Linked DNA regions of Homo sapiens. The protein of the gene in region 1 purifies or fractionates together with the protein of each later gene. This does not show direct contact. Each region holds a gene or a part of one and is shown on either strand. Other genes may lie near its edges. The genes, in order: COX16 and PDIA5.

Region 1 (3,822 bases):
TAAAAGAAAGGTAGGGATCAAACTTTATTTTTTTCCAAATGGCTACATCTTTCAGCTTCAGAATGATGGATTAAAGCTAATTAGATTTTTTTTCTTTTTCTTTCTTTTTTTTTTTTTGACAGAGTCTCACTCTGTCACCAGGCTGGAGTACAGTGGCGCAGTCTTGGCTCACTGCAACCTCCACCTCCCAGATTCAAGCGATTCTCCTGCCTCAGCCTCCCGAACAGCTGGGACTACAGGTGCGTGCCACCACACCCGGCTACTTTATGTATTTTTAGGAGAGATGGGGTTTCACCGTATTGGCCAGGCTGGTCTTGAACTCCTGACCTCGTGATTCTCCCGCCTTGGCCTCCCAAAGTGCTGGGATTACAGGCATGAAACTAATTAGATTTTTGGATGACATGATAAAGTAGCAATGACAACTTGGGGATCTTTTAAGGTTACCACATACTGAGAAGTGTGGTAAATTTCATGAGATTTCTTTTTTTCTTTAGAAAAAAGTGGCAGTATTTACTTAAGAAGTGAAGATGTCATTTATCTGACCCAGAAATTCCATTACTGGATATTTTTTCTCCAGTATATGTGTACAAAAACAAATGTAGTTGGGAGGCTGAGGCAGGAGGATCTCTTGAACCCGGGAGGCAGAGGTTGCAGTGAGCCGAGATCGCGCCACTGCACTCCAGCCTGAGTGACAGAGCGAGACTCTGTCTCAAAAAAAAAAAAAAAAAAGAAAAAAAAAGAAATATATTTGTGTTAGAAAATGTATGAGTGAGTAGTGCACATAAATAATGTATGTAATATGCATTATGTTTACATATATATAATTATATAACATGTAGTTATAAAAATATCATATGTATGACACACATACAAATATAAAAAGATCTCCACTGGGTGTGGTGGCTCATGCCTGTAATCCCAGCACTTTGGGAGGCTGAGGCGGGTGGATCACTTGAGCCCAGGAGTTCAAGACCAGCCTGGGCAACATGGTGAAACCCCGTATCTAGTGAAAATACAAAAATTAGCTGGGTATGGCAGTGGATGCTTGTAATCCCAGCTACTCGGGAGGCTGAGGCAGGAGAATTGCTTGAACCTGGGAAGCGGAGGTTGCAGTGAGCCGAGATCGCTCCTCTGCACTCTAGCCCAGGCAACAGAGGGAGACTTGGTCTCAAAAAATAAATAAATAAATAAAAAAGTACAGACCAGTATTATATACTACACGTAAGTATCAATTCCTGGGTCAAATAAATGACATCTTCACTTCTTAAATAAATATTGCCAGGTTTTTCAAAAGAAAAAAGAAATCACATGAAATTTACCACACTTCCCAGTATGCAGTAATCTTAAAAGATCCCCAAATTGTCATTGCTGCTTTATCATGTCATCCAAAAATCTAATTAGCTTTAATCCCTCATTCTGAAGCTGAAAGTTCTAGCCATTTGCAAAAAAATAAAGTTTGATCCCTACCTTCCTTTTTATATAAATATACTTGTATTACCAATTAAATGATTAAATATTAAAAGGTATAAAACACTATAAAACATAAACTTTTATAATTTTGAAATTAAGAATACCAACAAAACCTTGAAGCTGTGACATTATTCCAGAAATCATTCAACTATCAAACAAGAGAATGAGTAAATAAACTGTGTTCTGTTTTTATAATGGAATACCATATAGCAAAGAAAATTAACTATAGCTGCATACAATATACTTTAATCTAAAATACATAATTTCTCACTAAAAAAAGTTACACCAAAGAATAGTTTTAATAAAATTCAAAAACAGAAAAGGCTTAATTATAGAATTTAGTTATTATATATAGATGGTAAAGTAAAGAAGAAAATCAAGAAGTGAATGCAATAAAATCTAGCTTTTGTGTTAACGGTAAAGAGAGGAAGGTTACCCTTTTATCTGCAAGGGGTATATGTGTTGGCAGTATTCTATTTGTTAAACTGGGTAGTTAATGCATTGTAGTTTATGTTACAATTATTATCTCTAAATTAATGCTTTATATACACTTTTGTGTGTATTTATTAATAAAATATTAATGCAGTGTGCAAGATGGTAAGCACGATGCATATTATGTCTCCGTTTGTATTAAAGGGAGAGTGTGGTATGTTTAAAATGTCTGTGCTTATACATGGATTGATGATTTTTTGAAGGACAACCAATAAGTTGGAAACAGTGGTTATATTGGGGGGAAAGACATAAATAAGATAGAAATTGTACCCTTTGAGTTCAGGCAAAATACTACCCTAATGAGGGCTCCCTACCCCTTTCATCCCCCCTTGAAGAATGGCTTCAGTCATTTAGTAGAAGGGCTAAGCTTTTGAAAATATTATTTTCTTCTTTTGTTAAATCAGCAAAATGTCAGGTATGTCTGCTTTTTCTGAGTTGTGTAAATTCCACAGTTAGGCTGATGCAAAAATATTTGAAGTCCAGTCTATAGAAGTTTTCAGTTAGCTGCTTTGAGATACAGCATTTGGTATTAACAAAGTTCCACAACATAAACCTTTGTAATACATTGCAGCACTGAAGATAGCAAATTGACCTAAAAGCACAAAAAGATGAATTAACCAAATGAATTGGATGAACTATTGTTTGTTCATTTTTAATTGTACTCAAATTATATTTCTTATTAGGGGAAAATGATAGGAGAACAGAAAGTAAAATATTAAACATTAAAATTGTTATTCTACTAAACACGTATAGTTAGGTGTAAGTTGGACAAAATCATTTGTGTGTTGTTGTTTTTAGAGAATACATTTATAAATGCAATGACAGTATTGTAAATATGTTTTCTTTGCATAGGAGAAGATAACTCTTAGTTAGCTGTCACTGCTGTATTGCTTCAATATGAGGTGAGAGGTGACCCAGCTGACTATTTGTAAGGTTCTTGTATTGGTTTGAACCCCGAGAGCGCGCCAATGTACAACACTGAGGCGGTATGGAGCAACATGCTGTTTTAATGAGCGCCTGGGTGCAGGCGGGCTGAGGCCTAAAATGGCGTCAACCCCAAGTGAGGACGGGACGAAAGTTTTACAGTCTCCTGTAAACAGGAAGTGTCCTAGTCTGACGTAATTGCTAAGTTGTAACTGGATTGGCCTCTTTCTGGGTCTTCAGGGGTGTGTCTTCCGGCCGGCTCTCTTCCTGCTTCTGCTATCTTCCTGGCGCACCCTGCTGGCGCAAGTAGCCTTGAGCCTTGGGACTGGGCCTGAGAAGGGAAGAGTTTTTCTTTCATCTCCTTAAGCTTTCAGGCCCCGGGGAGAATCTTACATTCCTGTCTATTTGGTTATAGAAAAGGGAAAAGGGATGACTTTCTCAATAACTACTTCAGGCGTGACATAGGGGTGGCGTGGGCACCTTGGAAAAAGAAAACCTTAATTTTTTGGGTATTCTTGAGAGACGGGCTGGTGTCCACCATGTCGTTGTATCAGGAGCATCATCTGGATTGTCTGGAAACACATCTGTGCCTGCAAGACAGTTATGTTGAGAGGACAAGGCGGTGTGGACAGGGAGAGGCATGGCCTCATTTGCTGCTTCACAAATGAAAGACCCTGTCTGGATTAAGGAGGGAAGGTAATTCCTGAAGGGCTCAGAGTCTGGTAAGGGTGGAGGCCCCAAGACAAAAGTTCAGCCATACATGATTGCAAAGGGACTATAAAAAGAGGGTGCTTTTGGTGTTGCGCAGAGCCTTATGAGGGCAAAAGGGAGATTTTTTTTGTCCACAACTGCTGGGTTTTTAGAGCCAGCTTGGTGAGTTGGGCTTTAAGGACAGAGTTCATTTTTTCAACTTTGCCTGAAGATTGAGGCCTGTAG
Region 2 (3,822 bases), on another chromosome or scaffold:
GGGTGTCCCCAGGCTGAGGCCTGGACCCCACAACACAGATTGCACATCTAGTCCACGTCACAGGCCCACTCTGATTTTTCTCCTCAGTGGCAGGTAGGAACTGAACCAAAGCACCCCCAGCTCAGGACTCCTTGGAGACTGATGGTGCTTGTTTTCAATTTCCAGATGGGTAAGGTTAGGGGACTCGGCCTGGAGTGCCTTTAGACTGTCCTTTAAAATCAAGAGTATGATGATCGTAAAGGAAATGATGACTTGAAAGCATTTGTAAACACCACAGGTTCTGTGGTGCTATCTGTAAGGGACTGTAGGATTTAATCATTTCTCCACTAATATTTCCGGAACATTAGCTTGGGGGGACAGTATAGTGCCAAGGTTAAGGGCAAGAGCTTTCAAGTCAAGTTCCCCAAGTGCACTCTTGGTTTGCCTGGACAGTAAGACTTAAGGAAAATAACTCAGCCTCTTGGTGCCTCATTTTTTTCAGCTGTAAAATGGGGATAATAATAGTATCTAGGCTATCAGGATATTGTGAAGACTGAATAAGAGAATTCCAGTGAGGCCAGTGAGCACAGAACCTGGCACCAGATTCATGGTCAGGAAATGTCAGCTGCTATTACAGTCACTTCTTCCAACCCCATATACAAGCTCTGTCCCCACTTAGGGGCTCAGTGTCTGGGCAGGGGTTGGATAAAGGGACAATTCCAACATGATGTGATGTGAGGGATGAGGGAGGTGGTCCAGGTGCCAGGTGAGTGGGGCAAAGGCGCTCTGTATGATTCGCCATCTGAGCCAAGACTGGAAGAGGAGGAGACCAGGGAAGCACATCTGGAAACTGGAGGAGCCCCGCATGAGTAAAGCCATCAGAATGTTTGGTCAGAAAGTGGTTCCCACATTGGCCACTGGCCTCTTCTTGACCATCTAGCAAATTCCACATGCTGGGTAGCTTTTCCTCATCATTTGTTGTTTTTTCAAAGGAAGACAGTATAAAGCAGAAATGGGGAACTTGTTTCCGGTTGAGGGTCATGCACCAGGGAAGCCCGAGAAGGGGTCCTCAATGGCCATACCCAGTACAGAGGTGTTATGGAAGATGGGGCAGATTCCCATGAGAATGAGTCCTCCTACCAGGCAACACACACTGAAACCCTGCCGTGTGCCAAGCCTGTTCTAGATGCTGGGGGACAACGTCGACCTTGACAAAGTCCAGTTATCAAGCGTCTGCTGTATGACAAATTAGATCATTTTAGATAGAGCTCAATGAATGCTTGGAAGAAATTAAAAGAGGGTGATTCAATAAGATAATTTAAAATTATTGAATAACCATGATTCACACAGTTCTTTGGTTGATGGTTATTTGCATTTGGACAAAGCCCCTTTCCAGGTAGGAGAATCCTGTGGGCCCCCATGGCCACGTTTACTCATCATGTCCCTCATGCCCAGGTGAGCTGCCAGATGGATAGCTGAAGAGAAGAGTGAGGTGCGGCCTCCCCTGGCCACCAGGTGCCACCTTCACCCCCCTCACCCTCACGCTTCCCTTCTACTCTTCAGCTATGTAACATTCTATACGGTGAGACTTTTAAAATGGAGTTTACAAACTTGCTGCCTGCAATCTGTATCTGGCTCTCAGTCCTCTTCTATTTGGCCCACATTGAATTTAACAACAACAAAAAAAATAAATCTGAATTAGCTCCAACATAGAAATGGAGCCAGAAGATTTAATACAACAATTTGGCTTTCCAGCTTCTCTTTAAAAGTCAGAAGACTTGATGGCACTTACCCTGCAGTCTCACAGGTGACAACTGGCTGGGCAGAGAGGCAGCTGTCCTTCAGGTAGGCTAAACATACCTTCCCCAGCACCCCCTGGAGCCCAGTTCACCCAGGCCAGCAGACTGGCCCCTATGCACTTCTGATAACCGCAGCCCACCTCTAACGCACTTTATTATTTAAAAACATGAGGCAGATGCTCCCCTGGCCAAATTGTGGGGTTCCATTTCTCAGGGCAGGTGCTATGGGGCCCTGCCCAGGGACACGGGCATCCACATACTTTCCTTCCCTGCAGCCAGAGGCTGAGGCCCCATGCCCAGCCCGGGCCAGGAGCTGCTGCTCCGCCATGAAAGTGCTGGATGAACATGGCTCTGGGCTGCTGCTCTCCCTGCATCTGCTTTAAATTATGAATTTAATTTGTATACAATGCCCTGGAGCTATTGGAAATATAGTGTATGGTTTTATAAATCTACTAAATTAGAAATGTATACTTGTTCTGAATCACCTAAACTAGCTGCCAGCCGCACACATGGAATGCAACTTCTAGCTGCAAAGGTGAATCCACGCGCGTTTTCCACAGAAGAAGAGACAAATGCGTCCTCCCCAAAGGCAGCAGCTTAGACTCTTTGGAAAGAAGGCAGCGAATAAAGCTCTTCTCAGCTATTGAAATTTCACCTAAATGCCTGTCCCCTTACACCCAACTCAAGATTTGCACTGATCACCTGCAACACAGAACACCTACGATTTCTCAATTTGTTCTATGGTGGTTGGTACAAATCCTGGGGCACACGCTGCTGGTGTCCTGCCACATCCCCTCAGACCAGCCCTTGCCACAGCACCTGCTACTCTCAGCCTCAGAGCATCCTCCCAGCCTCAAGGAGCTGGACGTAAGGCCAATGACAGATGGGGGTCTAGAACAAGGACCCTGGCTTCTTTGGCCTTTGAGTGGAACAGCTCTGTGTCACGTTTCCTGGTGAGGTCTCCTGTGGGACTGAGCCTTGGTGACTCATCCAGTCATCTGCCCATAAAACACCTGCTTTGGTTCCTCCCCTTTCGTGTCTCACTTCCAGGGTCCTCTCTGAACTTCCTGAGATCACTTCCCAAATAAATTCCCTGCACATGAGCCCAGGAGCAGGGTCTGCTTCTGGGAGAACTCAAACTCTGACAATGCCTGTTTGCGATTCTCACTCTGCCCCTCTCCAGCTGAGAAACTAGCATATGATCTCTCTAAGATTCAATCACCTCTTCAGCAATATGAGCACTGTAACAATACCTAGTTGAGCAAGCTATTGTAAGGACAACATGATGTAAGAAATGCTTTCAGTGGAAGAAGAGCTCGCAGTAAATATCAAATATGTTATATTGTTCCTTCACCTAGTCAACATTTACACAGGTCTAAGGTGTCATGACTGTGGGGAGTTCAAGGACAAATGAGGTCTCTGTCCTGAGGGAGCTTTCACTTGGAAAAGGCAGTAGCCAGCCTCATAAACAGGAGGACCTACATGTCATGGCCAGATTCCAGCAGTGAAGTGGGCCCATGGCAGAGGTGGGGCCCCCACTGCCTCAGGGCCTCCCTCTAAGGGTGACCTTCACACCTGGCCCCACACCACCCCCAGCCTGCACACCTTGACGTGCAGTGAAAGGTGAGCCCCCCACCTGCTTGCCAGCCCACCACAGGTCCTGTCTGCCTTGCCCCTTCAATAACACCATCTGTTCCAACACTAACACTTTGCATTCCTTTCCCCACCAGTGTGCCAACCGATAAAGTCCCCAAGTAAGCTCCCGGGAGGGGGTGGAGGCTCCCCTGCTAAAATATGAGCTGCCACACACAGCTTTATTGATTCAGTAAAATAAATCTCTGCAGGAGCTAATATTGACTTTGGCTATGAAAATGGAAGTGAACAACCAACTGCATATTGATTGGGATAGGAACAGGGGCTGGCTTCTGGGTGGAAAAACCCCACAATTCCAGCTAAGAAGTGGCAGCTTGGGGTGTCAGGAGACCCAGTTCTGGCTGTCAGTGACCCGCTGGGCATTCCTGAACAAGGGACACAGCTCCTCTCT

Evidence for each region.
Region 2: the proteins of COX16 (region 1) and PDIA5 purify together in Homo sapiens (affinity purification with mass spectrometry; one large-scale study listed by BioGRID and IntAct). This does not show direct contact.

What each region holds. Positions count from the first base shown.
Region 1 is NC_000014.9:70,349,553-70,353,374, reverse strand, and holds part of COX16 (cytochrome c oxidase assembly protein COX16 homolog, mitochondrial isoform 1 precursor), read left to right. Parts: intron 1-2,951; exon of another isoform or gene 2,952-3,822.
Region 2 is NC_000003.12:123,157,469-123,161,290, reverse strand, and holds part of PDIA5 (protein disulfide-isomerase A5 precursor), read right to left. Parts: intron 1-3,822.